Linked DNA regions of Homo sapiens: region 2 is linked to region 1. A link means that fine-mapping ties the variant in region 1 to the expression of a gene that starts in the linked region. Tissue or cell type: whole blood. Region 1 holds a variant in brackets; the other region holds the start of a gene. All regions are shown on one strand. Distances are from middle to middle. Region 1 has its middle 42 kb from the start of SLC7A1. Region 2 holds the start of SLC7A1 (solute carrier family 7 member 1).

Evidence for each region. PIP is the estimated chance that this variant, and not a neighbour inherited with it, causes the effect.
Region 2: it holds the start of SLC7A1, and the variant in region 1 is fine-mapped to the expression of SLC7A1 in whole blood (TOPMed, PIP above 0.99).

Annotation. Positions count from the first base shown.
Region 1 is chr13:29,629,698-29,646,090 of GRCh38, forward strand. No RefSeq gene overlaps it. Among named protein-coding and RNA genes, the nearest start is that of SLC7A1, 42 kb to the left of the region's middle. The variant G/T (reference allele first, on the strand shown) is at 7,507.
Region 2 is chr13:29,584,695-29,599,846 of GRCh38, forward strand. SLC7A1 (solute carrier family 7 member 1) reads right to left here and starts at 10,994. Exons shown (of 13, transcript NM_003045.5): 1 at 10,722-10,994. RefSeq lists enhancers at 4,633-5,629, 7,790-8,291, 8,292-8,791, 9,881-10,010 and silencers at 9,658-9,952, 10,121-11,360.

The DNA.
Region 1 (16,393 bases):
AAATCTGACAAAAAGAAGCAGTGGGAAAAGGATTCCCTATTTAATAAATGGTGCTGGAAGAGCTGGCCAGCCATATGCAGAAACTGGACCCCTACTTTACACCATATACAAATATTAACTCAAGATGGATTAAACACTTAAATGTAAAACCCAAAACTATAAAAACCGTAGAAGAAATAGGCAATACCATTCAAGGCATAGGCACAGGCAAAGATTTCATGCCAAAAATGTCAAAAACAATTGCAACTAAAGCAAAAATTGACAAATGGGATCTAATTAAACTAAAGAGCTCTGTACAGCAAAAGAAATTATCATCAGAGTGAACAGACAACCTACAGAATGGGAGAAAAATTTTGCAGTCTATCCATCTGACAAAGATCTAATATCCAGCATCTACAAGAAACTTAAATAAATTTACAAGAAAAAAACAACCCCATTAAAAAGTGGGCAAAGGACACGAACAGACACTTCTAAAAAGAAGACATTCATGCAGCCAACAAACATATAAAAAAAGCTCAACATCACTCATTGTTAAAGAAATGCACAAAAACCTAAAACCAAAATGAGATACCATCTCATGCCAGTCAGAGTGGTGATTACTTTTTTAAGAGGAAAATAAAGTTTATTTATGACACTTTTTAAAAAAAATTATACTTTAAATTCTGGGATACATGTGCAGTATGTTCAAGTTTGTTACATAGGTATACATGTGCCATGGTGGCTTGCTACACCCATCAACCCGTCATCTACATTAGGTATTTCTCCTAATGCTATCCCTCCCCTAGCCACCCAACCCCCAACAGACCCCAGTGTGTGACGTTCCCCTCCCTGTGTCTGTGTGTTCTTATTGTTCAACTCCCACTTATGAGCGAAAACATGCAGTATTTGGTTTTCTGTTCCTGTGTTAGTTTGCTGAAAATGATGGTTTCCAGCTTCTTCCATGTTCCTGCAAAGGATATGAACTCATCCTTTTTTATGGCGCATAATATTTCATGGTGTATATGTGCCACATTTTCTTTATCCAGTCTATCATTGATGGGCATTTGGGTTGGTTCCAAGTCTTTGCTATTGTGAATAGTGTTGCAATAAACATACATGTGCATGTGTCTTTATAGTAGAATGATTTATAATCTTTGGGTATGTACCTAGTAATGGGATTGCTGGGTCAAACAGTATTTCTAGTTCTAGATCCTTGAGGATTTGCCACACTGTCTTCGACAATGGTTGAACTAATGTACAGTCCCACCAACAGTGTAAAATTGTTCCTATTTCTCCACATCCTCTCCAGCATCTATTGTTTTCTGAGTTTCTAACGATCGCCATTCTAACTGGCATGAGATGGTTTCTCACTGTGGTTTTGATTTGCATTTCTCTAATAACCTGTGATGATGAGCTTTTCTTTCACAAATCTGTAGGCTGTATAAATGTCTTCTTTTGAGAAGTGTCTGTTCATATCCTTTGCCCACTTTTTGATGGGGTTGTTTTTTTCTTGTAAATTTGTTTAAGTTCCTTGCAGATTCTGGACATTAGCCCTTTGTCAGATGGATAGATTGCAAAAATTTTCTCCCATCTGTAGGTTGCCTGTATAATCTGATGATAGTTTCTTTTGTTGTGCAGAAGCTCTTTGGTTTAATTAGATCCCATTTTTCAATTTTGGCTTTTGTTACCATGCTTTTGGTGTTTTAGTCATGAAGTCTTTGCCCATGCCTATGTCCTGAATGGTATTGCCTAGGTTTTCTTCTAGGGTTTTTATGCTTTTAGTTCTTACATCTAAGTATTTAATCCATCTTGAGTTAATTTTTATATAAGGCATAAGGAAGGGGTCCAGTTTCAGTTTTCTGCCTATGGTTAGCCAGCTTTCCCAACATCATTTATTAAATAGGGAATCCTTTCCCCATTGCTTGCTTTTGTCAGGTTTGTCAAAGATTAGATGGCTGTAGATGTGTGGCATTATTTCTGAGGCTTCTGTTCTGTTCCTTTGGTCTATAAATCTGCTTTGGTACCAGTACTATGCTGTTTTGGTTACGGTAGACTTGTAGTATAGTTTGAAGTTAGGTAGCGTGATGCCTCCAGCTTTGTTCTTTTTGCTTAGGATTGTCTTGGCTATACAGGCTCTTTTTTCATTCCATATGAAATTTAAAGTAGTTTTTTCTAATTCTGCGAAGAAAGTCAATGGTTGCTTGATGGGGATAGCATTGAATCTTTGAATTACTTTGGGCAGTATGCTCATTTTCACAATATTGATTCTTCCTACCCATGATCATGGAATGTTTTTCCATTTGTTTGTGTCCTTTCTTATTTCCTTGAGCAGTGGTTTGTGGTTCTCCTTGAAGAGGTCCTTTACATACCTTGTAAGTTGTATTCCTAGGTATTTTGTTCTCTTTGTAGCAATTGTGAATGGGACTTCACTTATGATTTGGCTCTCTGTTTGTCTATTATTGGTGTATAGGAATGCTTGTGATTTTTGCACATTGATTTTGTATCCTGAGACTTTGCTCAAGTTGCTTATCAACTTAAAGAGATGATGGGGTTTTCTAAATATACAATCATATAATCTGCAAAGAGACATAATTTGACTTCCTCTTTTCCTATTTGAATATACTTTATTTCTTTGTCTTGCCTGATTGCCCTGGCCAGAACTTCCAATACTATGTTGAATAGAAGTGGTGAGAGAGGGCATCCTTGCCTTGTGCTGGTTTTCAAAGGCAACGCTTCCAGCTTTTGTCCATTCAGTATGATATTGGCTGTGGGTTTGTCATAAATAGCTATTATTGTTTTGAGATACATTCCATAAATACCTAGTTTATTGAGAGTTTTTAGCATGAAGGAGTGTTGAATTTTATCGAAGGCCTTTTCTGCATCTATTGAGATAATCATGTGGTTTTTGTTATTGGTTCTGTTTATGTGATGGATTACATTTATTGATTTGAGTATGTTGAACCAGCCTTGCATCCCAGGGAAAAAGCCAACTCGATCATAGTGGATAAGCTTTTTGATGTGCTGCTGGATTCGGTTTGCCAGTGTTTTATTGAGGATTTTTGCATCAATGTTCATCAGGGATATTTTCTTTTTTGTGTGTGTCTCTGCCAGGGTTTGGTATTGGGATGATGCTGGCCTCATAAAATGAGTTAGGGAGGAGTCTCTCTTTTTCTATTGTTTGGAATAGTTTCAGAAGGAATGGTACCAGCTCCTCTTTCTTTCTTTTTCTTTCTTTTTTTTTGAGACAGAGTCTCGCTCTGTCCTCTGTCCCCCATGCTGGAGTGTAGTGGCACAATCTCGGCTGACTGCAAGCTCTGCCTCCTGGGTTCACACCATTCTCCTGCCTCAGCCTCACGAGTAGCTGGGATTACAGGCACCCGCCACCATGCCTGGCTAATTTTTTGGTATTAAAAATACCAAAAAGAGATGGGATTTCACCGTGTTAACCAGGATGGTCTCGATCTCCTGACCTCGTGTTCTGCCCGCCTCGGCCTCCCAAAGTGCTGGGATTACAGACGTGAGCCACCGCACCCAGCCACCAGCTCCTCTTTCTAACTCTGGCAGAATTTGACTGTGAATCCATCTGTTCCTGGGCTTTTTTTTGGTTTGTAGGCTATTAAGTACTGCCTCAATTTCAGGTCTATTTAGGGATTTGACTTCTTCCTGGTTTAGTCTTGGGAGGATGTATATGTCCAGGAATTTATCCATTTCTTCTAGGTTTTCTAGTTTATTTGCATAAGGGTGTTTATAGTATTCTCTGACGTAGTCTGTATTTCTGTGGGTTCAGTGGTGATATCCCCTTTATCATTTTTTATTGTGTCTATTTGATTCTTCTCTCTTTTCTTCTTTATTAGTCTGGCTAGCAGTCTATCTATTCTGTTAATCTTTTCAAAAAACCAGCTCCTGGGTTCACTGATTTTTTTAAAGGTTTTTCGCGTCTCTATCTTCTTCAGTTCTGCTCTGATCTTAGTTATTTCTTGTCTTCTGCTAGCTTTTGAATTTGTTTGCTCTTGCTTCTCTAGTTCTTTCAATTGTGACATTAGGGTGCCAATTTTTGATCTCTCCTGCTTTCTTTTGTGGGTATTTAGTGCTATAAATTTCCCTCTAAACACTGTTTTAGCTGCATACCAGAGATTCTGGTATGTTGAGTCTTTGTTCTCATTGGTTTCAGAGAACTTATTCATTTCTGCCTCAATTTTGTTATGTACCTGGTAGTCATTCGAGAGCAGGTTGTTCAGTTTCCATGTATTTGTGTGACTTTGAGTGAGTTTCTTAATCCTGAGTTCTAATTTGATTGGACTGTGATCTGAGAGAATGTTTGTTATTATTTCAGTTCTTTTGCATTCACTGAGGAATGTTTTACTTCCAGTTATGTGGTCAATTTTAGAATAAGTGTGATGTGGTGCTGAGAAGAATGTATATTCTGTTGATTTTGGGTGGAGAATCTGTAGATGCCTATTAGCTCCACTTGGTGCAGAGCTGAGTTCAAGTTCTGAATATCCTTGTTAATTTTCTGTCTTGCTGATCTAATATTGACAATGGGGTGCTAAAGTCTCCCACTATTATTGTGTGGGAGTCTAAGTCTCTTTGTAGGTCTCTAAGAACTTGCTTCATGAATCTGGATGCTCCTGTATTGGGTACATATATATTTAGGATAATTAGTTCTTCTTGTAGCCTTGATCCCTTTACCATTATGTAATGCCCTTCTGTTTTTGTTGTTGTTGCTGTTGTTTTGATTCTTGTTGGTTTAAAGTCTGTTTTATCAGAGACTGGATTGCAACCCCTGCTTTTTTTTTTTTTTTTTTTGCTTTCCATTTGCTTGGTAAATATTCCTCCATTTCTTTATTTTGAGGCTATGTGTGTCTTTGCATGTGAGATGTGTTTCCTGAATACAGCACACTGATGGGTCTTAAATCTTTATCTAATTTGCCAGTCAGTGTCTTTTAACTGGGGCATTTAGCCCATTTACACTTAAGGTTAATATTGTTATGTGTGAATTTGATCCTGTCATTATGATGCTAGCTGGTTATTTTGCCTGTTAGTTGATGCAGTTTCTTCACAGTGTCAATGGCCTTTACAATTTGTCATGTTTTTGCAGTGGCTGGTACCAGTTGTTCCTTTCCATATTTAGTGCTTCCTTAGGAGCTCTTCTAAGGCAGGCCTGGTGGTGACAAAATCTCTCAGCATTTGCTTGTCTGTCAAGGATTTATTTCTCCTTCACTTATGAAGCTTAGTTTGGCTCGATATAAATTCTGGGTTGAAAATTCTTTCCTTTAAGAATGTTGAATATTGGCCCCCACTCTCTTGTGGCTTGTAGGATTTCTGCAGAGAGATGCACGGTTAGTCTGGTTAGTCTGATGGGCTTCCCTTTACGGGTAACCCGACCTTTCTCTCTGGCTGCCCTTAACATTTTTTCCTTCATTTCAACCTTGGTGAATCTGACAATTATGTAGATTGGGGTTGCTCTTCTTGATGAGTATCTTTGTGGTGGTCTCCATATTTCCTGAATTTGAATGTTGGCCTGTCTTGCTAGGTTGGGGAAGTTCTCCTGGATAATATTCTGAAGAGTGCTTTCCAACTTGGTTCCATTCTCTCCGTCACTTTCAGGTGCATCAATCAAATGTAGGTTTGGTCTTTTCACATAGTTCCATATTTCTTGGAGGCTTTGCTCATTCCTTTTCATTCTTTTTTCTCTAATCTGGTCTTCTTGCTTTATTTCATTAAGTTGATATTCAGTCTCTGATATCCTTCCTTCCACTTGATCAATTCAGCTAATTATATTTGTGTATGCTACATGAAGTTCTTATGCTGTGTTTTTCAGCTCCATCAGGTCATTTACATTCTTTTCTAGACTGGTTATTCTAGTTAGCAATTCCTCTAAACTTTTTTCAAGGTTCTTAGCTTCCTTGCATTGGGTTAAAATGTGCTCCTTTAGCTCGGGGGAGTTTGTTATTATCCACTTTTTGAAGCCCACTTCTGTCAGTTTGGCAAACTCATTCTTCACCCAGTTTTGTTCCCTTGCTGGCGAGGAGTTGTGATCATTTAGAGGTGGAGAGGCATTCTGGTTTTTGGAATTTTCAGCCGTTTTTGCACTGGTTTTTCCTCATCTTTGTGGATTTATCTACTTTTGGTCTTTGATGTTGGTGACCTTCAGATGGGGTTTCAGTGTGGGCATCCTTTTTGTTGATGTTGATATTATTCCTTTCTGTTTGTTAGTTTTCCTTCTACCAGTCAGGCCCCTTTGCTGCAGGTCTGCTGGAGTTTGCTGGAGGTTCACTCCAGACCCTCTTTGCCTGGGTATCACCAGCAGAGGCTGCAGAACAGCAAAGATTGCTGCCTGTTCCTCCTCTGAAGCTTGGTCCCAGAGGGGCACTCGCCAGATGCCAGCCAGAGCTCTCCTGTATGAGGTGTCTGTCTACCCCTGCTGGGAGGCGTCTTGTTGTCAGGAGGCACAGGGGTCAGGGACCCACTTGAGGAGGCAGTCTGTCCCTTAGCAGAGCTCGAGCACTATTCTGGGAGATCTGCTGCTTTCTTCAGAGCCAGCATGCAGGAAGGTTTAAGTCTGCTGAAGCTATGCCCACAGCCACTTCTTCCCCCAGGTGCTCTGTCCCAGGGAGATGGGAGTTTTATCTATAAGCCCCTGACTGGGGCTGCTGCCTTTCTTTTAGAGATGCCCTGCCCAGAGAGGAGGAATCAAGAGAGGCAGTCTGGCTACAGCAGCTTTGCAGCATTGAGGTGGGCTCCGCCCAGTTCGAACTTCCCAGTGGCTTTCTTTACACTGTGAGGTGAAAACCGCCTACTCAAGCCTCAGTAATGGCAGACAACCCTCCCCCGAGCAAGCTGGTGCATCCCAGGTCAACTTCAGACTGCTGTGCTGGCAGCGAGAATTTCAAGCCAGTGGATCTTAGCTTCCTGGGCTTCCTGGGGGTGGGATTTGCTGAGCTAGGCCATTTGGCTCCCTGGCTTCAGCCCCCTTTCCAGGGGAGTGAATGGTTCTCTCTTGCTGGCTTTCCAGGTGTCAATGGGGTATGAAAAAAAATCTCCTGCAGCTAGCTCTGTGTCTGCCAAAATAGCTGCCCAGTTTTGTGCTTGAAACCCAGGGTCCTCATGGCATAGGCACATGAGGGAATCTCCCTATCTGTGGGTTGGGAAGACCATGGGAATAGCGAAGTATCTGGGCTGGATAGCACAGTCCCTCATGGCACAGTCCCTTATGGCTTCCCTTGACTAGGGGAGGGAGTTCCCCAACCCCTTGTGCTTCCCGGGTGAGGCAACACCCCACCCTGCTTTGGCTCACCCTCTGTGGGCTGCACCCACTATCTAACCAGTCCTAATGAGATGAGCTGTGTACTTCAGTTGGAAAAGCGGAAATCACCCACCTTCTGTGTTGATCTCACTGGGAGCCGCAGACCACAGCAGTTCCTATTTAGCCATCTTGCCAGCCACCCAGAGTGGTGATTATTAAATAGTTAAGAAACAGCAGATACTGTCAAGGTTGTGGAGAAAAAGGAATGCTTTTACACTGTT[G/T]GTGGGCATGTAAATTAATTCAAAAGTGTAGGAGACAGTGTGGTAATTCCTCAAAGATCTAGAAGCAGAAATACCATTTGACCCAGCAATCCCTTTACTGGCTATATACCCAAAAGAATAGAAATCATTCTATTATAAAGATACATACATATGTATGTTCATTGTAGCGCTATTCACGATAGCAAAGACATGGAATCAACCCAAATGCCCATCAGTGATAGACTCGATAAAGAAAATGTGGTATATATAAACTATGGACTACTATGCAGGCATAAAAAGGAATGAGATCATGTCCTTTGCAGGGACATGGATGGGGCTGGAGGCCGTTATCCTCAGTAAATTACTGCAGGAACAGAAAATCAAACACTGCATGTTCTCACTTGTAAGTGGGAGGTGAACGATGAGAACACATAGACACATGGAGGGGAGCAACACACACTGGGGCTTGTCAGGTGTGGTGGGGGTTGGGAGAGCATCAAGAAGAATAGCTAATGGATGCTGGGCTTAACAGCTAGATGATGGGTTGATCTGTGCAGCAAACTACCTATGTAACAAACCTGCACATCCTGCACATGTAACCCAGAACACAAAATAAAAGTTGAAGAAAAAAATAAATAATTATGGAAACAAAAACTGAGATAATTCATCATAAGAAGATCTGAACTAAAGGAAATGCTAAAAGGTATTCTTCAGGCAAAAGAAAAATGATCCCAGATAGATGATAGAAATTCAGAGATGTAGGAAGAAATGAAGAGCAGTAAAAAAAAAAAAAAAAAAAAGTAAGTGAAAAACAATGTTTTATGATTTTCAAATATGTACAATTAAAATATAACAATGGCATAAAGGTATGGATGGGGGATGAATAGAGTTAAATAAAATATTTGAAAGTCCTTTTGAAAGAGGGTGAAAAATAACCAAATAATCAAGTAGCATATTTATAATAAAAATACAGCAATTATAACGAATGTAAAAGATTAATTTTTTGATTAAAGGTTAAGACTGCCAAACCACATTAAGATAAAAACAATATCACCTTTTTACTGCTTTTTTTGTTTGAGATATGGTCTCGCTCTGTGGTCATACTGGAGTGCACTGGCCTGACCATGGTTCACTGCATCCTCAACTTTCTGGGCTCACGCAATCCTCCCACCTCAGCCTCTTGTGTTTACTGCTTTACAAGTAAAGTATAGAAAACATCAGGATGGGAAAAGATGTAACATGCCATGCAAACATCTATCAAAAGATTAACATAGTAGTAACTACATTAGTATCAAACAGACTTTAAGGCAAAAAACATTACTGTGAGTATAGAGAGAAATTCCTTATGATAAATGAGCTAGTTCACCAAAGAGCTATAATAATTATATATCTGAACATATGTAATAACACAGCTTCAAAATATGTAAGGGAAAAATTGACAGATCCTAAGAGGAGAAGTTCACAACTATAGTAGGATACTTTGCGCACCTCTTCTAGTCAATGGTAGAACAAGCAAACAAAAATTCAGTTGGGATACAGAAAATCTGAACACAATAATGAGTCAAGCTGATCTAATTGTCAAATATACAACACTCATGCTCAATAATAGCAGACTATCTGTTATTTTCAAATGCACATGAAATATTTATAAAAAATTGCTATAAGTGAAATCAGAAATCAAATATTGACACGTGTCAAAGAACTTAAGTCATACAAAAAATTTTCTTCTATTAAATGCAATTAAACTAGAAACAACAAACATAACTAGAAAATCGCTACATGTTTGGCCATTAAGACATAAACTTCTAAATAACCCACCAGTCAATGAAAATATCACAATGAATATTTTAAAATATTTTAAATTGAAAAATGTCAAAAATGTTACATTTCAAAACTTGTAGGATATAGCTAAAATGTTGTTAGAGGGAAATCTATAAGTTTATATGCATATGTTTGAAAAGAAGAAAGGTGGACATTCAATTATTTTTACTTATTGATTTATTTTTGAGACAGAGTCTCACTCTGTTGCCAGGCTGGAGAGCAGTGGTATGATCTCGGCTCACTGTAACCTCTGCCTCCCGAATTCAAGTGATTTTCCTGCCTCAGCCTCCCAAGTAGCTGAGACTACAGGTGTGCACCACCACGCCCAGCTAATTTTTGTATTTTTAGTAGAGACGAGGTTTCACCATGTTGGCCAGGATGGTCTCGATCGCTTGACCTTGTGATCTGCCCGCCTCGGCCTCCCAAAGTGCTGGGATTACAGGCATGAGCCACCGTGCCCAGCTCAATTATTTAAATAACTGTCATGAGAAAAAAAAAAGAACATTAAAGTAAACTCCAAAATTATGTAAGGAAGAAATAATAAATGTAGCCACAAGACTTAATATAATAGAAAATAAAATAGAGAGGAATGACAAAATAAAAGATAGATTATTTGAGAAGACTAATAAGTTGATGAACCCATGGCAACATTAAGAAAAAAAGAGAAAAGATGTAAAGAATCAATGAAAAATAGAAAAGTAGAAATACCACAGACCTCATAAACATGAAAACACCATGAGAAGATAGCATGAACAACTTTATTTACTTATTTTAACTTTTATTTTAGGTTCAGGGGTACATGCGCAGGTTTGTTATATTGGCAAACTTGTGCCATGGGGGTTTGTTGTACAAATTATTTCATCACCTAGGTACCAAGCCAAATACTCAACAGTTATTTTTTTTCTGACTGATGCTCTCCCTCCTCCTACCCTCCACCCTCAAGTAGGCCCCAGGGTCTGTTGTTTCGTTCTTTGTGTTCGTGTGTCCTCATCATTTAGTCCCACTTACAAGTGAGAGAATGTGGTATTTGATTTTCTGGCTGCGTTAGTTTTCTAAGGATGATGGCCTCCAGCTCCATTTGTGATGAACAACTTTAAAACAATATTTTGAAAATTTAGAGGAAATGTTTAAATTTGTTAGATAAAAGTATAACTTACCAATATTGGGACAAAAATAGAAAATCTGAAAGCCACATAAGGATTAAAGAATATGATCTATAAAACCCAATAGCTTTGCCAATATATTCTTCTGGACATTTAGGAACGCAATAATGCTAATTTATAACAAACTCTTACAGAGAAAAACCAAAGTAGGAATACTCTACAACAATTAGGTCAAACCTTCTGAAAAGGCTGTTGGTGTCAATCAAAAATGATTGAATATCAGCGATTGCATATGGGTCAATCTAATAGTTTTATGATCCATCACAAAATTGATACAAAATCCCAATGAGGATATTTTAAGAAAGGATAATACAGCATGACCAAGTTCGGTTTTGTTGAGGCCAAGAGAGAACTCTGAAAATCAACTGACAGAGGCAGATGAAGAGGAGAAAAGGCATATGAATATATTAATGTGCAGGGAGGGGGAGCCATCCCAGAATGATTAACCCACCACACAATAGGCCAAAGGGGTACAGATGCTTACATACCCTTCTTCTTAGGGGAAAGGAAGATAGGAAAGTGTGGATGATTTTAGGGGGATAGTAAATGATTTTTAGGGGAATTCAATGAGACTGAAAAACGTAATGGCCTGGGACAAAGTTAGCTGGGCTTGCAGAGCACATAGTGGTTTGTGACAAGTCTGTTCAGGCGTGTTGACAGACTTCAGTGTTTCTTCCTGCAATATAAGTTCAGTTTATAAAACTCAGGGAAGGGAGCAGAGGTCATTGTTTTCTTCTTCGGTGAGCCCAGACTTTAGGCAGATAAGGGAAGTTCAGAGAACAACTCCATCCTGTGCTTTGGGAGAGACAGAGGATTGAGAGACAAGATGGGGGAAGCCCAGAGAGGCCTTGAGGCTTCTCGTTCAGTTCAGCATTTCAAGGCATCATATTTTGGGGTATCAGTTTCTGAGCCCCAACAGTTTGTTCTAGAAAGTTAACTTAAAGGGGGTAAAATCTATGTAACTTACAAAATTAGCAACACAAAGAAGAAAAATGACACAATCAACTCAATGGACTTGGAAAGGGTATTTGATAAAAAAAACACTTATTCATGATACAGGAAGGAAGTGGGGGAAAAACTCTTGGCAAAGTAGAAATAGAAAGAAACTGATAAGTTGTATCCACCAAAAACCTACAGCCAATATCATACTTATTGGGCAAGTGTTGAAAGCTTTTGTTCTGGTATCAGGGATCAGACCAGGATGCTCATCATTAACTATTTCTATTAAACATTTTACTGGATATTCTAGTCAGTACATAATGTGAAGAAAAAGAAACAAATTATAGAAAGAAAGAGAATTATCATTATTCAGAAATAATATAAAAAAATTATATCCCTAAAAAATCTAAAATAATCTGTATTTAGAACTAATGTTCTAATAGTTCCACTAGAATGATTAGATTTTATCTAATATATAGTATGTGTTAGATTATATATCATTTATTAGATTTTATCTAATGTATATAAAATATATCTAAATAGATACAGGATCTTAAGGTTGAAGGTTTGGATATTGATTTGAGAACTACTTTTTTTTTTTTTTTTTTTTTTTTATTATACTCTAAGTTTTAGGGTACATGTGCACATTGTGCAGGTTAGTTACATATGTATACATGTGCCATGCTGGTGCGCTGCACCCACTAATGTGTCATCTAGCATTAGGTATATCTCCCAATGCTATCCCTCCCCCCTCCCCCGACCCCACCACAGTCCCCAGAGTGTGATATTCCCCTTCCTGTGTCCATGTGATCTCATTGTTCAATTCCCACCTATGAGTGAGAATATGCGGTGTTTGGTTTTTTGTTCTTGCGATAGTTTACTGAGAATGATGGTTTCCAATTTCATCCATGTCCCTACAAAGGATATGAACTCATCATTTTTTATGGCTGCATAGTATTCCATGGTGTATATGTGCCACATTTTCTTAATCCAGTCTATCATTGTTGGACATTTGGGTTGGTTCCAAGTCTTTGCTATTGTGAATAGTGCCGCAATAAACATACGTGTGCATGTGTCTTTATAGCAGCATGATTTATACTCATTTGGGTATATACCCAGTAATGGGATGGCTGGGTCAAATGGTATTTCTAGTTCTAGATCCCTGAGGAATCGCCACACTGACTTCCACAATGGTTGAACTAGTTTACAGTCCCACCAACAGTGTAAAAGTGTTCCTATTTCTCCGCATCCTCTCCAGCACCTGTTGTTTCCTGACTTTTTAATGATTGCCATTCTAACTGGTGTGAGATGATATCTCATAGTGGTTTTGATTTGCATTTCTCTGATGGCCAGTGATGATGAGCATTTCTTCATGTGTTTTTTGGCTGCATAAATGTCTTCTTTTGAGAAGTGTCTGTTCATGTCCTTCACCCACTTTTTGATGGGGTTGTTTGTTTTTTTCTTGTAAATTTGTTTGAGTTCATTGTAGATTCTGGATATTAGCCCTTTGTCAGATGAGTAGGTTGCAAAAATTTTCTCCCATGTTGTAGGTTGCCTGTTCACTCTGATGGTAGTTTCTTTTGCTGTGCAGAAGCTCTTTAGTTTAATTAGATCCCATTTGTCAATTTTGTCTTTTGTTGCCATTGCTTTTGGTGTTTTGGACATGAAGTCCTTGCCCACGCCTATGTCCTGAATGGTAATGCCTAGGTTTTCTTCTAGGGTTTTTATGGTTTTAGGTTTAACGTTTAAATCTTTAATCCATCTTGAATTGATTTTTGTATAAGGTGTAAGGAAGGGATCCAGTTTCAGCTTTCTACATATGGCTAGCCAGTTTTCCCAGCACCATTTATTAAATAGGGAATCCTTTCCCCATTGCTTGTTTTTCTCAGGTTTGTCAAAGATCAGATAGTTGTAGATATGCGGCATTATTTCTGAGGGCTCTGTTCTGTTCCATTGATCTATATCTCTGTTTTGGTACCAGTACCATGCTGTTTTGGTTACTGTAGCCTTGTAGTATAGTTTGAAGTCAGGTAGTGTGATGCCTCCAGCTTTGTTCTTTTGGCTTAGGATTGACTTGGCGATGCGGGCTCTTTTTTGGTTCCATATGAACTTTAAAGTAGTTTTTTCCAATTCTGTGAAGAAAGTCATTGGTAGCTTGATGGGGATGGCATTGAATCTGTAAATTACCTTGGGCAGTATGGCCATTTTCACGATATTGATTCTTCCTACCCATGAGCATGGAATGTTCTTCCATTTGTTTGTCTCCTCTTTTATTTCCTTGAGCAGTGGTTTGTAGTTCTCCTTGAAGAGGTCCTTCACATCCCTTGTAAGCTGGATTCCTAGGTATTTTATTCTCTTTGAAGCAATTGTGAATGGGAGTTCACCCATGATCTGGCTCTCTGTTTGTCTGTTGTTGGTGTATAAGAATGCTTGTGATTTTTGTACATTGATTTTGTATCCTGAGACTTTGCTGAAGTTGCTTATCAGCTTAAGGAGATTTTGGGCTGAGACGATGGGGTTTTCTAGATAAACAATCATGTCGTCTGCAAACAGGGACAATTTGACTTCCTCTTTTCCTAATTGAATACCCTTTATTTCCTTCTCCTGCCTGATTGCCCTGGCCAGAACTTCCAACACTATGTTGAATAGGAGTGGTGAGAGAGGGCATCCCTGTCTTGTGCCGGTTTTCAAAGGGAATGCTTCCAGTTTTTGCCCATTCAGTATGATATTGGCTGTGGGTTTGTCATAGATAGCTCTTATTATTTTGAAATACGTCCCATCAATACCTAATTTATTGAGAGTTTTTAGCATGAAGGGTTGTTGAATTTTGTCAAAGGCTTTTTCTGCATCTATTGAGATAATCATGTGGTTTTTGTCTTTGGCTCTGTTTATATGCTGGATTACATTTATTGATTTGCGTATATTGAACCAGCCTTGCATCCCAGGGATGAAGCCCACTTGATCATGGTGGATAAGCTTTTTGATGTGCTGCTGGATTCGGTTTGCCAGTATTTTATTGAGGATTTTTGCATCAATGTTCATCAAGGATATTGGTCTAAAATTCTCTTTTTTGGTTGTGTCTCTGCCCGGCTTTGGTATCAGAATGATGCTGGCCTCATAAAATGAGTTAGGGAGGATTCCCTCTTTTTCTATTGATTGGAATAGTTTCAGAAGGAATGGTACCAGTTCCTCCATGTACCTCTGGTAGAATTCGGCTGTGAATCCATCTGGTCCTGGACTCTTTTTGGTTGGTAAACTATTGATTATTGCCACAATTTCAGAGCCTGTTATTGGTCTATTCAGAGATTCAACTTCTTCCTGGTTTAGTCTTGGGAGAGTGTATGTGTCGAGGAATGTATCCATTTCTTCTAGATTTTCTAGTTTATTTGCGTAGAGGTGTTTGTAGTATTCTCTGATGGTAGTTTGTATTTCTGTGGGATCGGTGGTGATATCCCCTTTATCATTTTTTATTGTGTCTATTTGATTCTTCTCTCTCTTTTTCTTTATTAGTCTTGCTAGCGGTCTATCAATTTTGTTGATCCTTTCAAAAAACCAGCTCCTGGATTCATTGATTTTTTGAAGGGTTTTTTGTGTCTCTATTTCCTTCAGTTCTGCTCTGATTTTAGTTATTTCTTGCCTTCTGCTAGCTTTTGAATGTGTTTGCTCTTGCTTTTCTAGTTCTTTTAATTGTGATGTTAGGGTGTCAATTTTGGATCTTTCCTGCTTTCTCTTGTAGGCATTTAGTGCTATAAATTTCCCTCTACACACTGCTTTGAATGCGTCCCAGAGATTCTGGTATGTGGTGTCTTTGTTCTCGTTGGTTTCAAAGAACATCTTTATTTCTGCCTTCATTTCGTTATGTACCCAGTAGTCATTCAGGAGCAGGTTGTTCAGTTTCCATGTAGTTGAGCGGCTTTGAGTGAGATTCTTAATCCTGAGTTCTAGTTTGATTGCACTGTGGTCTGAGAGATAGTTTGTTATAATTTCTGTTCTTTTACATTTGCTGAGGAGAGCTTTACTTCCAACTATGTGGTCAATTTTGGAATAGGTGTGGTGTGGTGCTGAAAAAAATGTATATTCTGTTGATTTGGGGTGGAGAGTTCTGTAGATGTCTATTAGGTCTGCTTGGTGCAGAGCTGAGTTCAATTCCTGGGTATCCTTGTTGACTTTCTGTCTCGTTGATCTGTCTAATGTTGACAGTGGGGTGTTAAAGTCTCCCATTATTAATGTGTGGGAGTCTAAGTCTCTTTGTAGGTCACTGAGGACTTGCTTTATGAATCTGGGTGCTCCTGTATTGGGTGCATAAATATTTAGGATAGTTAGCTCCTCTTGTTGAATTGATCCCTTTACCATTATGTAATGGCCTTCTTTGTCTCTTTTGATCTTTGTTGGTTTAAAGTCTGTTTTGTCAGAGACTAGGATTGCAACCCCTGCCTTTTTTTGTTTTCCATTGGCTTGGTAGATCTTCCTCCATCCTTTTATTTTGAGCCTATGTGTGTCTCTGCACGTGAGATGGGTTTCCTGAATACAGCACACTGATGGGTCTTGACTCTTTATCCAACTTGCCAGTCTGTGTCTTTTAATTGCAGAATTTAGTCCATTTATATTTAAAGTTAATATTGTTATGTGTGAATTTGATCCTGTCATTATGATGTTAGCTGGTGATTTTGCTCATTAGTTGATGCAGTTTCTTCCTAGTCTCGATGGTCTTTACATTTTGGCATGATTTTGCAGCGGCTGGTACCGGTTGTTCCTTTCCATGTTTAGCGCTTCCTTCAGGAGCTCTTTTAGGGCAGGCCTGGTGGTGACAAAATCTCTCAACATTTGCTTGTCTATAAAGTATTTTATTTCTCCTTCACTTATGAAGCTTAATTTGGCTGGATATGAAATTCTGGGTTGAAAATTCTTTTCTTTAAGAATGTTGAATATTGGCCCCCACTCTCTTCTGGCTTGTAGGGTTTCTGCCGAGAGATCCGCTGTTAGTC
Region 2 (15,152 bases), 46 kb before region 1:
AGACTTAAAGACATTTATTTTCTAAGAAAAAAAAAGAAAAAACATTCAAGCATTTCTTAAGCAAAAGTCCATCCAACCTTTTCAAGAAGAACTATTTAATGGTATGGCTGCTATTGTTAATATAGTTTCAATACCGTTCGATATTAACCCATAAGATTTAGTCAAAAAATAACATTTCTATGAGTATCTTTTCTCACTCTTCTTCCCCAAAATCCTTAACTCTTTCAGACAGGTTCTTCGTCGCATCACGCTGAATAAAATAAACTCAAAGAAAATCAGAGCACTGAAATTAACAAATGTATGGCCCATTTCTAAAAACTCACATACAGCCTGACCAGGCCACCTTTGGGACACCACTGTGTCAGGTTAACGAAGGACAGATACCCCAGTATGCAAAAGCAAACCACACTGGGGAATTCACACAGGTCTGCCCTGAAAACCTACTCACTTTCTTGGGCATCATCACAGAGAATAATGTCCCCTTCAGTCAGAAACTCCTAAATCACCACAAAAAGAAACCTTGACTCTTCAACTTTCTTTGCCCTAACTGGTCTGGATGGAGAATTGACTCCCATCCCCTAGTGCCAGCAGTGAACATGAAATTCAGGACAATGTGGTGGAGTTGCAGGTGAGGTGTGGCTCATATGTCTAAACCTAGTGTGTTTTGCAAACTCCAAGTTGCCACGAGGAATTTTTCTTGTAATGAAATAGAAAAGAATAAAAATTATCTCAGCGTATCACAGATAGTAAAAATGAGTACTGTTTCATAAAAATTTTCATTTTATCTATATATCAATATGTGTGCCTCTGTGTGTGTACTTGATTACAATGTAAATTTAGTTCTTATTGTAGACTGCGGTCAAAGAAGTTTAAAAGCCGCCATCCTCGGGAACACCCAGTGAGTACCAGTGTGTGCGGGTAACCAGTAGTCCCATCCCAAACAGCCCAGAGAAAGGCTTTCCCAGCACCGGGCTTCCAGAATCCTGTGCTAAGCTGACAGTACAGAAGAGGCAGCCAACAGGGCTCTGAATCCCAAGTGCCTGAAGGAGGAATGAAACAATCTCACCAGAGAGGAAAGGACAGCTGTGACAGTCACCCTCCCTGAACAAGACCACTGAGACCAGGGATGGACATCTTCCAAGCTAACCTACAGTGCAGGTAAGAATGGGAAGCTGCATTTTTAGATAACTATCCATTAGAAACCAGGACGACATATGAACAGTGTATCTTGGTAGCCTTGGATGCTCAAGGATGAGAAACCCTGGGCAAACCAGGCAAAAATTCTCAACCACAGGACAGGACAAACTGGCCCAAAGGTTCCTTAGTTACAGAGTAAGTAAGAAGAAGCTGTAATTCTACCCCATCTGGGAACATTAGGAAAAAGACAACATCTGATACTCTGATTTCAGTAGAACTGGATTCTTCCAAAAATATAAATGTCAAAGTCACCCATTCACAGTATAATTTGTACCAAAGTGCAAAATGGGGTATGTATGTGTGCCAAAGAACAAAATCTACCAGAACTGAGCTGCTAGGGCAAAATTACAACAGAAACTTAAAATAATATATTGTCCCATCCACCTGCCAAAACATTAGCTCAAAGACATTCCTCCTTTAAATACAGTTTTACTAATTATAAGAATAGTCATTCAATAAATATTTCTTGAGCACTATTTTAGGTGCCACAAACACTGCAGTGAGAAAAACAAAGTCCAATTTTTCCAGTCTTTTCTTTCTGTGCAAATACATATATCTCATTAAGCTAACACGGAACATGGGAAATTGCACCCAGATGGTTTCACTTTTAACATTAAAGTTTCTCCCACAAAATCAAATGTTCTTTGAAAACGCCATTCTTACTGGCTACATAGTATTCTAACATGGAAATGGTATCATGATTTACTGAAAGACACTCCCAAATGCTTACCACAAGATAAAAACACAAAGGAGAGACATCATTAAATAGAACGTTAGACCTAGATTCAGAGCCTTAAGGAAAAAGAAGAAAAAAAAGGAAAATACAATCTTACAAATCTCAGAGACCCCACTATTTTCCTCCACAGGGATGAATATTCACATCCACACCACTGGCCACATCAAGCTCTAATTTGTGCATCTCCCTTTATAAGCCCCACTCCCTCTTTGATCGAAGAGAACATTGTCTGCACAGAACAATACGTTTTCATTTCAATTTCCCTTCTTTTCAGGAAAGGAAATGTTTGCACTTCAAAGGGTTTCTTTGAAGAGTAGCCCTTCAGCTCTGGCCCGTCCAGGTTGGGCGTTACGTGGACTCAGCAGGGTGTGTGGAGTCTGGGCGGCTGCCCACCGAAGTCACTCTCAAGGCCAGCTCCTTCAAGGAGAGGGTCTGGGGCCGGAGTAGAAAAAACAAACACATGGAAAAATACTCAAGGCTTTTGATCATGACCTTCAGAGGCCCATTTTCACACATAACATAGACTTACAGCTCAGGGAAACTGAGGTACAAATGATGGGGAGCTGAGGACAATGACGTAGTAGCTTCTAAGAACAAAATCCTTCCAGAAACCAGACTCGCTTAGCAAAGACCCGTTCTGGGCCAGGAAAGGGGAGAGCCACTCTCAGTTCCAGCTGTTATGGCGAATGGACCACCTAAGCGGACAAAGCAGGGAAGCGAGATCCAAACTTCACTACCTGCACCAGTTTTAAAACCTTTCCCTAGGAACTTTTGAGAAGCACAGTCATTGGCAAACAGCAAACTTCACATGGTAAAATTTCACATTTTATTTCTTCCGTAGCCCACTGGTAGGGGCCAAGAGGCTCATTAAAAGGCAAGTCTAACAACCACATGAAGCACCCAAGAGCTCACTGATATGGGGCCAGTGCTGTTTCCCTCAATCACGCTCCAGGCCCCATCCTTAACCTCTGCCAAGTCCAGGAAGCAAGGGGTATAGACCAGACAAGAGTGGGCCTGCAACATTTCTTTTCAAGTCTCAAACAAGTTCTGGATATTTATTAACGATCTCCACCCTTCCCCACCTGGAGGATATGCACCACAAAGGCACCACCAAGGCTGGTTAAGTCTGCCTGCTCGGTGGGCACCTGCCCAAGGGGTGGGCAGGAGCATGAAAGACCGTCAGCTCCAGACAGGGGCCGGCTCCTCCCACAGCCCCAGGACTTGGCTGCGGGGCTCCTGACTAGTGTGTGGGTGGTGGAGGGATCACGAGTCTGTGTGGCCAGGTCACCAGAGCTGAAGGAGCTGAGAAAGTCTTTCCACCACCTTTCTGGTCGATCACTCAGCCTCTGAGCTGGAATTATGAATGGGTTTTATTTTCTCCTTCTTTTAATTTTCTGTAGTTTCCAAATTTTCCACAACAAACATTCTAACTTTTAGAAACACTTTTTCTTAAAAAGGCTTATGAGGTAGAAAATCACACCTCTTTTGAAAGAACCCCCACACTGCAAAACTCCTTCCCCAAAAATACTTAGCTATAAAGGACATTATGTGGACGACTGCAAGTCAAATATGGACTGTGGCCTAGATCGCAGGGTTGTATTAATGTTAAATTTCCTGACTTTGCTATTGTACCATGGTTATGTGAGAGAAGAGCCTTGTTCTTAGGAAATATACACTGAAGTATAGAGGGCAAATAAAATGGCATGACGTCTTCAGCTGACTCTCAAATGGTTCAGAAAAAAATGTATGTGTCTGTGTGCATGTGAGTTTGTGTGGGGTGGAGAGAGAATAGAAGGAGGCAAAACATAACCCACCTGTGCATCTGAGAGACGGTACCCAGGAGTTCCTTGCACTCCTGCAAATTTTCTTTTCTTTTCTTTCTTTTTTTTTTTTTGAGACAGTATCTCACTCTGTTACCCAGGCTGGAGTGCAGTGGTGTGATCTCGGCTCCCTGCAACCTCCGCCTCCCGGGTTCAAGTGATTCCTGTGTCTCAGCCTCCCGAGTAGCTGCAACTATAGGCATGCGCCACCAACACCAGGCTAACTTTTGTATTTTTCGTAGACATGAGTTTCACCATGTTGGCCAGGGCTGGTCTCAAACTCCTGGCCTCAAGTGATCTGTTTGCCTCAGCCTCCCAAAGTGCTGGGATTACAGGCGTGAGCCACCATGCCTGGCCTCTGCAACTTTTCTTTAAGTTTGAAATGTTATCCAAAAACTGCTGAAAAAGAAAAGGGGAAAAGGAGAAGGGCAAAAGGGATGAGGGAAGAGTTCTCCTAACTCTAACTGCCAGTCTTTCCCAGGGGCCTTCACTGGGTCCCAGAAACTGCACCCTAACGCCCCCAGCTCCTAGACCAGGCCTCATCCCAAGGGAGGGCAGGAGGTGTCCCTGACACTGTGGAAAAGCTGCGGGCCAGGAAGACTCTCCCAAGTCACTTTGGGGAAGACGGGCCCTTGCTGCAGGCCCTGGTGTGGACAGCTCCTGCCCCAGCCTCTCTGAGAGTGTTAAAGATGCATCCTCTAAGGAAAGGGGGCACCTCCGCAAGATATTGTAGAAATCAGCAAAGCCAAGCCAAGGGCAGGATGACAGCGGCCACTGGCCTTAAGAAGGATGGAACACAGAAAAGGAAGCTGACTTTCCCCTACGAACAGTCTCTGATTTCCACAAGACCCCCTGCAAAGGGGTCTCCCCAGGTGGAGATGGAGGTGGAGTGTGGGCGTGGCTGGATGGTGATAAATCAAACAAGGCTCCATTGTGGTCTGGGCAGGAGGCATTGCATCCAGCCAAAGGCTGGTGATGTAAATGCCAAACTACTGACCCAGAAAGAATGCAGCCCAGCCTCCGTCACACACACCGGCTCCTGACACTGGCCACGTCCCAGCGCAGCTGCCCCAAGGACCCCAGGGCTCCAGCTGTGCCAGGTGCCTGGACTTGGGAGGGGGAAGACCCACTTTCAGAGACAGCAGAGGGAAATCAGGGCAAAGAGAGGGGAGGCAGGGTGCCCTCCAGCGTTGGGGCGGGTGACCGGTGCCAGCACCACCTGGACTCAGCCAGAAACAGAGGGACGCAGGCAGATGGGCTTCAGATCTGTCTGCCTCCCACTCAGTGTACACAGGGCAGGCCAGGCCAGGCCTATCCCGAGACAGGCTGGAGTCCAGGTACAGGCAGACATCTGGGTTCCAATCTTCACTCTGCCACTGACTGCCTACCTGTGTGCCCGTGGGCCACCTGCCTTCCCCTCTCCCCATCAGTCACACCAGAAGGGCCGATCCCACTGGGTGGTTAGGAAGATTCAAATGAAACATAGATAAAGCGCAGAGTACATGGTGAGCACTAAATAAGTGCTTGCAATGATTGATCTTACCTAGCCCCAGGGCCCCTCCCTTCCTTCCTACTTGGCCTAACAGACTTTGGCTAATGGCACTCAGTAAGCAGACAAGATGCAGAGAAGGACACTTCGAACACGTCCATAACAGATCAACTCCAGCCACTTTGTGGGGAGGATGAGCCCCTGCCTTCTCACTGCTGCCCCCAGGTGGGTGTCGCCCACCACCCCTGTGCTGTATGGAGACATCCTATCCTACAGACCCAAGCACGGGATGAGTGAGGTGGGAAACACGGCCCAGAGTTTCAGCTTTTCAGCTTTGCTTTTTCTAAAACCCAAGGGCTTCGGAGTAATTTGAACAACATGTTTGGGATGACTGTAGCCAGGGCAGTCACTCCCGTCCTGCCCCCCACCAAACACACACACATACATATACACATACACATACACATACACATAAACATACACATACCCACACACAGCAAACACTAAGAAAGGGGCTGAGAGCTCTGTTTCCCAGGAGTCCTAGAAGTCACTGAGCGCAAGGTGCATGGGTCTGAGTCCTAAGCAAACCTGCACCCCATGCTCAGGGAGACATCAGGATTCCAAAGAGAGATGGCTTCAAGTCCATCCAGGCAGTCAGAGCCAAAACAGCCCAGAGACTATTGTTCCTTCCCTCAGACCTGGGACCAGATGGGATGGTGAACCTGTCAGCAGATGCCTCAGAGGCCCGCATCCCTCCTCCAGCACCCTGGGACTATGTCTGCCCCTTCTAATTTAGAAACCCACCCAAGGAAAGAGCACAACATTTTAATGCCTTGGTAAAATGAGAGAGCGAAATTAAGTTGTTGTAAAAATTATTTTTCTCAGGGCTAGGCTAAGTGGCTCACGACCATAAACCTAGCACTTTAGGGAGGCGAGGCAGGTGGATCACTTGAGGCCAGGAGTTTGAGACCAGCCTGGGCAACATAATGAGATCCCTTCTCTACCAAAAAATAAAAAATAAAAATTAGCCGGGTGTGGTGGTACACACCTATGGTTCCAGGTACCTCAGAGGCTGAGGTGGGAGGATCGCTTGATCCCAGGAGGTGGAGGCTAATACAAGCTGTGACTGCACCACTGCACTCCAGCCTGGGTGACAGAGTGTGACCCTATCTCAAAATATATATATATTTTTCTCCCACACCTAAATCAAGGAACTGAGCCTTCTTTCCAGTATAATAGTTAACACTTACATGCAACATTTAGACTTGTGCCAGAGGCTGTGTTAAATCCATAACATGGATTATCTCATTTAAATCCTCTCAGTCCTATAAAGTAGGCACTAGAAGGCAATTATTATGCAAACAATATGAAAAAGAATTTAAATGTGGTTCTGAGGAATATCTCAGAAAAGACACTGACCCCGTAAGTGGAACCCACTCTGGGGCTCTGCTCTTTCTGCCAGTAGGGATCATGATGTCTCCTTTGACCCCACAGCGTAGAAGCCCCATAACCTCATGTTGCAGAGGCCCCATACCGAGCAGAGGCCACTCCCTGAGTCACCACTGCTAGATGGTTTCTACAATGCAGAACTCACTGTGCAGGACACGGCAGTGTGGGATCCACTTTTAAAGAAACAGGAAAGCAGCTGGTTGCCCTCACAGCCAAGAATCCGATCTGAACAAGTATTCTGAAGAAAGCACTGCAGTAGGAATATGGAAAGCTAGGAAACAAAATTGCCATGCCCTCTGTGCCCCCAGAAAAGGGAGGGGGGCAAGGGGACAATCAGAAAAAAATGGAAAGACAATGTAGCCAGACATAGTCCTACCAGAAGAAGGGACATCCTCTCCCACCTCCAAATAAACCCCCAGGTTTCCTCGCGCTTGATTTTTGGTTGCCACGGTCAGAAATTTTTGGTTGCCGTGGTCAGAATTGCAGGCTGCTAACAAAAGGACTGATCTCAAGAGAGAAATGTAAATGCATGGACTTGGTGCCTTGATTCTTTCAAAGAACACTGTGGACTCCATGCTTCCTAACTTCACTACTGTGAGGCTGAGAGGGACAGGCTCTCCCAATATACAGATGGAGCCAGTATGTAAGGTTCACGAAGTCTAAATTACTTCAGAGAGAAGCAAAGCCAGAGAAGCCAGGAGCGGTGCTGTTCCCAGTATTGGTCCCAACTCCCCTCAAAGAAGCATCCTTCGTTTCAGGGCAGATAATCATCCCATTCTGCATTGAAGCTGTGAAGGCCTCTTCCCTCAGTCACACGGCTCTGATTCCAGTTATCCAGTGTGTTCACCAAATGCAATACCTGCCATTCCCCACTGTTCCTGACAATAACTAGAGGAAAAAAGCCCAATGAAAGCCACTGGGTGTGGCAGGAGGGGCAAACCACAGACCAGCCAGAATCTGGTCCAAAGCCCAGAAACATCTTTTCTGAAGCCCAAGTTCCTGGGATGACCAAATCTCGACCAGTGGGCCAGGTAAATGGCATCCCCTGGGTCTGCCAACACTGCACATCTGAACGAATGCCTTGGGAGAAAAAGGAACACGGCTAGCAAGCCACCAAATCATTTTCCCAGTTTGATGCCCATCCTTCTGGTAATTCCATTTGGAAATGTACTAAGCCTGGATTGACAGATCATGACCCACACTGAACCACAGGGGTGGTTATTTTCAAGGCTGCTTTGTAGATGGGTATGGGAGTGGGGGAGGAGGCAGATTATGGCAAAACAGAAAGGGAGGCCACTAAAGTTTATCACAAGGCAGATAATCTGCCACAAATGAAGCTACTACTCTGTTCCCTCACGGGAAGAGAGGTCTAAACCCTGGGGTGGATAGCAGGTTGGCCAGGGATCTGATGCCTCCCCACCCGAGGCCTGGGAAACCTGAGGGTAGGCAGATGTCCTGAAGATCCAGGAATACCCCAGGACCTTTGAACCCCATGTATGGAGGGTCTCCATCCCACAGGACAAGTCCACCACCAGGCGGCCCACTAGAAGGCGGCAGGGGAGCAAAGGGAGGCCATGGGCAGCAAGGAGACAGAGGCTGAAGAGACCCCCCAGATTTGGCGAGAGGAGCCAGTAAAGCTAGGTGAAGGGGAAGGAGGCCAGCAGCCTGGACGGGTGGCTGCAACACACAGGCAGGCACCTGAGAGGGGCCCCAAGAAGATACATCTTCCAGCCCTGACCCTGGGGATAAGAGTTCTAAAAAGGTCAGTTGTGACTTTCAAAAAGTCCCTCTTCCATCCAACACGTTCTTTGCTCAGCCTTCCCATCTCATTAATACAGCAACTCCGATGTGCTTGGAGTCATATTTGACCTTTCTCGTCCTTCCATGAATCCACCGGCCAATCCTATTGGATCTGCCTTTAAAATCTATCCAGGTCTGCAGGGGCCAACTATACAGAAAAACACCACATCCTATCGGAAGGTCTTGCTTGGAGTGAGGACCAAGAGGCAGGTGGAGTGATAGGCATCTCTGAAGATGCCTCTGGAAGAGATAACTCCGAGACTCAAGTATCTCCAAGGTTAGAGGGAAACAATATTTTTCTCCATAACAAGGATGCACTTATTCACATTTCAAATTTGTCCCTAGGATTAATAGCAATCCCTCCAAATACATGGTTGATAATGAGAAAGGATTAATTTAATTGGACATAATTCTGAGCCCTCCAACATAATTATCTATTTGTATGGACTTTGGTTAAAATAAACTACAGACCAGAATAATCAATCAACACGTATTTAATTCCATCAAAGAATGAGTTCTTCTACCAAATAGAAAATTGTAACTCCCTGAAGTCAACAGTCTTGTCTTTCAAGCCTTTCTTTTTTTTTTTCACCTAAAGCAAGTAATCATATGTACAGGAGCACGTGGCTCTAGGATCCAGACCCAGACAAGGGAGTACATTTCTGATCTACTTACTAAGCCCTTTCCTCTTTACTCAAAACTCCTTTGACATCCTTTGAATTTTACCTTTATAATAATTAAACATGATCGTAATATGCTAAACCTATTTTTAAAACCATTTTAATCTATTGTTGACCTTTCCCCTAAGTTTCTATTCTGTTCGTGTGACTTAAATAAGACCTTTTGTTTTAATAACAGGAGGGTGTGTTCATATAAAAATCATGGTAATTTCCACTGAGATCAACTAAAAATACCAGAGGAATAAATGTATCATGGTTTCCTATTATCTGAACCAAACATAAAGGGCAAGAAATGTTAGGAAAAATCCCAGATAAATTATAATTCGAATTAAATACAATTAGGGCATTCGGCCAGAGGCCGACATACACAATTCTACTAGTCGAATGTAAGTAAGATAAAAGGCACATTCTTTAGGGAGATACACCTGGGATTGAAATCTCAACCATCTGGTAACTATGTCTGGACTAAAACCCAACACATGAGGGCATGGCGGTGATGACGTGAGTATTGGGAAATGTAGGTTATTTATTTATTTTTTTCCTGAAGGCACATGTCTGACTATCCTAGTCACACAAGTCAAACACAACTGCTGTCTGGTTCCCCCATCCCCTGGAAAGGGTCAGGAGCTGAACCAGCAGGCTGTTGTAGTACTACAGTGCAGCTGCCGCTCTGTGTACGCGCAGGTTTTAGAATGACTCTGACCTGCCCATGCCTGGGAAGTTTTCTACTACGCAGAAAGGAACACCCTGAGAATACGGTGTCTTGCTAAAGGCGGAAGAACTTCCTCTCATTCCAAACCATGTGGAGGGCTTGAGGAACCCGGCCTTTCCAGGCCACACTGGGTCACAAGGAAGCCCACCTAGGGGAGACTTCCTCAAAGCAATCTTGGGGACCCAGACGAGAGGTGCAGGCGGCGCGTCCCGGGTTCTAGGGACAAGCGGAGAGCCAGGCGCCCTAGGTCAGGGCGGCCACCGGGCGGGGATGGCAGCAGAGTCCCTGGGCCGGCCACCTGCCGCGGGACCACCCTCCGGGCGGCCGGGCAGAGTCCCCACCCACGGCTGATGACACATCCCCGGACCTCGTGGCGGGGCGGGGTGCTCTGCACCGCGCCATGTAAGGGAAGGTCTCCTCGCCGCCGGCGGGCTCCGTGTGCCTCCCAGTCTGGCCCCCGTGCCCGCCGCCCGCCTACGCACCCCGACCACCCCGTGCGTAGCGGCGCGCGGGTCCCCGGACAGGCGCGCGGAGCGGGCATCGCCAGATCGCCCACGCTTACTCACTCGGTGTTGCATCATGCACCACGCCGCGGTTTCAGGGAGCCAAAATGGACTCCGTGGAGGCGACAGTCGCATGGGCACCAGCCCCGCTCGCCCACTCCGGGGCCCGCCCGGCCCTGGTCCTGGCCCTTCCCAGAGGATGGCAGCGTTCCCGGCGCGGGGGCCCTCGCCACTCCCGCGCCGCCCTGCCGCGGCCCCACGCGGCGCCAGGGCCCCCTCCGTGATGACCCGGGCCCAAGGAGCTGCCCCCTGCGTTGGCGGGGCCGGGCACTCACCAAGCCGGCGGCGGCGGGGCTCCGGCAGGATCGCGAACAGACAGACTGTCGGACGCGCTCAAGGACCAACGGACGCTCGGCCGGCGAGACCGGGCGGGGCGGGGCGGGGCGGGGGCGCGGCGCGCGGGGAGAGGAGTGGAGGCTGCGGTTAGCGGGAGCCCGCGGCCGCGTGCGCGCCTGCCAGGTAGTTGACCCGCTGCTCACACCTGCCTGCGCGGACTGAATGGGCGCCGAGGGCTGGCGGGTTCCGGCGCCAGGTTTCATCAGCAGTGCGCCCGGCCCCCGCCCCTCGCGCTCCGCGCCCCGCGCCCCACGCCCGCCCCCGGACCAGGCAGCCCCGGCCCGCTCGGCCGCGTCACCGCCGGGCACCAATGGGAGCGCGGCGCGGCGGCGGCTGCCAGCCCAGAGGCTGCGGCCGGGGACCGACGCGCCCTTGGTGGGCGGGGCGGCTGAGTCTTCGCGCGCCCAGCGCCCCAACCTGGGGTTCCCGCGGCGGGCGGGCGGGCTGCGCCTCCGCTCGCCTTCTCAGTAGCTCCGTAGGCGTGTGGCCGTTTCTCCGCCAATCTGAGCGCACCGCGCCACAGCATCCTGTGGTCCCCTGCAGATCCCACAGCGCCCTGGCCAGAACTAGTGCTGCAGGTCCGGCCGTGCCAACCCCCTCCCGGCGGGCCCCAGGGAGCTCACACGGAACTCGAGACCAGTTTTCCTTCTCCAAAATAAAAGATTTGGTATGCACTTAAAAGGTTTAAACTGTTTTCTTTTCATTTTAGAGACAGGGTGTTACTCTATTGCCCAGGCTGGAGCGCAGTTCACCTTAACCTCGAAATCCTGGCCTCAAGCGATCCTCCCGCCTGGGCCTCCCAAAGCGCCCTAGGATTACAGTCCTGAAACACTGCACCGGCCTAAAAATTATTATAAATCTTCATGTCTTTGTTATTGGATTATTTTATTACTATTCCTTTGCCCTTGCTAATACCTTATCCTTGCCAGTTGTCAGAAGAGCCCCAAAGCTTGAATCTACCTGTGCCCCCTTGGCAGTGGCAAATGCACAAACGGCTAGTCAGAACGGCTCACTTTTGCAGTTACCCCCCAGGAAGTGGCAGAAGCTTCAGTCCTGAATCACACCGTGCTCACCTTTTAAGCTCCCTCCTTGTCTCCTTTTGTACCAAAAGCCAAGCGAGAATCATAATCTTTAAAGATCCAGTGATCTGGGACTTGGGATAGGTAAACAGGGCATAAATTAATAATGCCATCCTTCTTCTATCTTATAGGAAAACAGAAAAACAGTGGACGGTGTCCGTGGTCTTTGAATCCTTTCTACAGGTCCTTCTCAAATATCAGCTGCTGAACTATTCCCTTGGAATTAGACTAGCAATTTATAAAGTACATAACTGCATGGTGCTAGCTTCAGAAAAAGTGTTCTGTTGTTGTTGCTGTTGTCATTTGTTTGTTTTTTAGAGACAGGGGTCTCACTCTGTCACCCAGGCTGGAATGCAGCGGTACAATCATAGCTCACTGGAACTTCAAATTCCCAGGCTCAAGCCATCCTCCTGCCTCAGCCTCCCAAGCAGATGGAACTACAGGCTTGTGTCATCACGCCTAGTTAATATTTTTTCTACATATAGACACGGGTTTTTGATATGTTGCATAGGCTGGCCTCAAATACCAGCTGTCTAGCGATCATTTTGCCTCAACCTCCCCTAGCATCGGGACTACAGGGATGAGCCAGAAAAAGTCCCCAGAAAAAGTTTTAATGAACACATGCAGATGGCTTAGCAGTTGTAAAATGTGTTTTTGTCTTTGTTTTAGAGAGTGGGTCTCACTCTGTCACCAAGTTGGAGTGCAGTGGCAACATCATAGCTCACTGCAGCCTTGAACTCCTAGGCTCAAGCGATCGCCTCACTTTAGCTTCCCCAGTAGCTGGAAATATAGGCGAGCACCATCCTGCCCAGCTTTGTAATGTGCTTTGAACAGTGCTTGACATCATAGTAAGCCACCATATATGCTTTGTTTTAAAGCAACAAATCTGGCCTGTCACGGTGGCTCACGCCTGTAATCCAGCACTTTGGGAGGGCAAGGCAGGCAGATCATGAGGTCAGCAGATTGACACCATCCTGGCCAACATGGTGAAACCCCGTCTCTACTGAAAATACAAAAATGATCTGGGCGTGGTAGCGCACGCCTGTAGTCCCAACTACTCGGGAGGCTGAGGCAGGAGAATCACTTGAACCCAGGAGGCGGCGGTTGCAGTGAGCCAAGATCGCACCACTGCGCCCCAGCCTGGTGACAGAGCGAGACTCCGTCTCAAAAAAATAATAATAAAAATCAATAAAAAATAAATAAAACAATGTATCTTAGTTCAATTGCACAGTGGTGAAATGATGCCTTCCATTCACAGAAGATCTCCCAGATCCCACGCAGCCTACTCTGTCTGCTGAGGCCACAGTAAGCATGTCCCCTTCTCACAGAGAGAAGCCTGGTAGGATTAAAGACCACCTGCTTTGCCCTTGGCACCAGATCAGGATTTGAATCTGAACTCTACCAGTTCATTTGCTGTGAGAGCTTCTGCAAACTATTTCACTCCTGTTTGGAGCTTGTAAATCTTATATTCTTAAGAAAAAAATCTATCCCTTGGTGTTTGAAATATGACTGTGGAATTTTCTCTTTCTGCCTCTCTTTCTTTCTTTTTCTCTTTGCTGACTTCTGGCAGTAAAATAGAATTTCATAAATTGTAGAGATGCTCTCCTTGGGCAACACAGAGCGCCAACATGAGTTAATGTTTGTAAATTCTGAGAGCAAGTGCTCCAGGCCCTGATGGGAGTATGGTGACATTTAACCCAGGAGATTTTTAGCACTGTGCTCCGTTTAGCAATCCCACTCAGCAAGGTCCTGTCTTCAAAAAGACAATAAGACAAGCCCCATGAGCAAGTGACTTCTCAGCAAAAAGGATTCAGTATGAACCAGGGAAAAAATAGTTACGCACAAGATCTCAGCAAAACATTAGAGGATGCTGATAAAGAGGGCTACATGTTTTAAGCAAAGCCAGTTTTTAGGCAGGTCAAGACTCACATTACAGGTTCAGAGAAACCGTGAGTGACAGGCAGCCTTGATTACAATCAAAGAGCAGCTGCCCAAGATTCCAGCAACCATTAAGAAAGGGAGATGCTACAATTTAGGCCCTAGAGAGCAACATCTAAGGTTAAGGTTGACATACTAAGTCTCTTTCTAGCACCATTAGGCACCTTGGGGGCAAGGAAAGTGCACAGAATCAAAGCCAGGCAGATGTGGGTTTCAATTCTAACCAGCTGCTGGCCTGGGGAGAGGGGCCCTGCTCACTCTGTGCCTCAGTTTCCTCATTTTCGAAATAAGAATTTTACTACCTGCTGGATACATACGAACTTCATGGTAAGGATGAAAAATGTGTATAAAGATGAACAGAATATAGAGCTCAGAAATAGACTTAGTTTGTTTTGTATTGCTATAATGGAATACTCGAGTCTGGGTAATTTATAAAGAAAAAATGGTTTATTTGGCTCACAATTCTAATGGCTGGAAAGTTCAAGATTGGACATCTGCATGTGGAGAGGGCTTCAGGCTGCTTCCACTCATGGCAAAAGATGAAAGGGAGTGTGCGTGTGTGCAGAGATCACATGACAAGAGTATAAGCAAGAGGGAGAGGAGAGAAGGGCCCGGTTCCTTTAAATAACCAGCTCCAGAGTCATCTAATAGAGTGAAAATTCATCTCCCCGTCCCACCTACCCCCAGGAAGGACATTTCATGAAGGATCCACACCCGTGAACCAAATACCTCCCATTAGGTTCCACCTTCAACATTGGGGATCAAATTTCAACATGAGGTCTGGAGGGCACAAACATCGAAACCCAAACAGTAGCCTAGACCCACACAAATAGCTGATCCAGAGTGGCTAAGACAAGTCAATGGAGACAAGATAGTCTCCTCAACAAATGGTCCTGGAACAACTGGACCTGGACCGCCACATGCAAAAAATAAATCTAGACACAGACTTTAACATCTTACACAGCAATTAACTCAAAACAGATCATAGGCCTAAATGTAAAACACAAACCTATAAAATGCTTAGAAGATAACATAGGAGGAAATCTACCAATGGCTTTTTAGATACAACAGCAAAAGCATTATCTATGAAAGAAATGATTGCCAAGTTGGCCTTCATTAAAGTTAAAACCTTCTGGTCTGCAAAGACAATGTTAAGGCAATGAAAAGACAAGCCACAGGCTGGGAGAAAATCTTTGCAAAATACATATCTGATAAAGGACTGGTATCCAAAATACACAAAGGACTCTTAAAACTGAGTAATAAGAAAACACCTCACTTTAAAAACACAGCAGGGCGCGGTGGCTCACGCCTGGAATCCCAGCACTTTGGGAGACCGATACAGGTGGATCACCT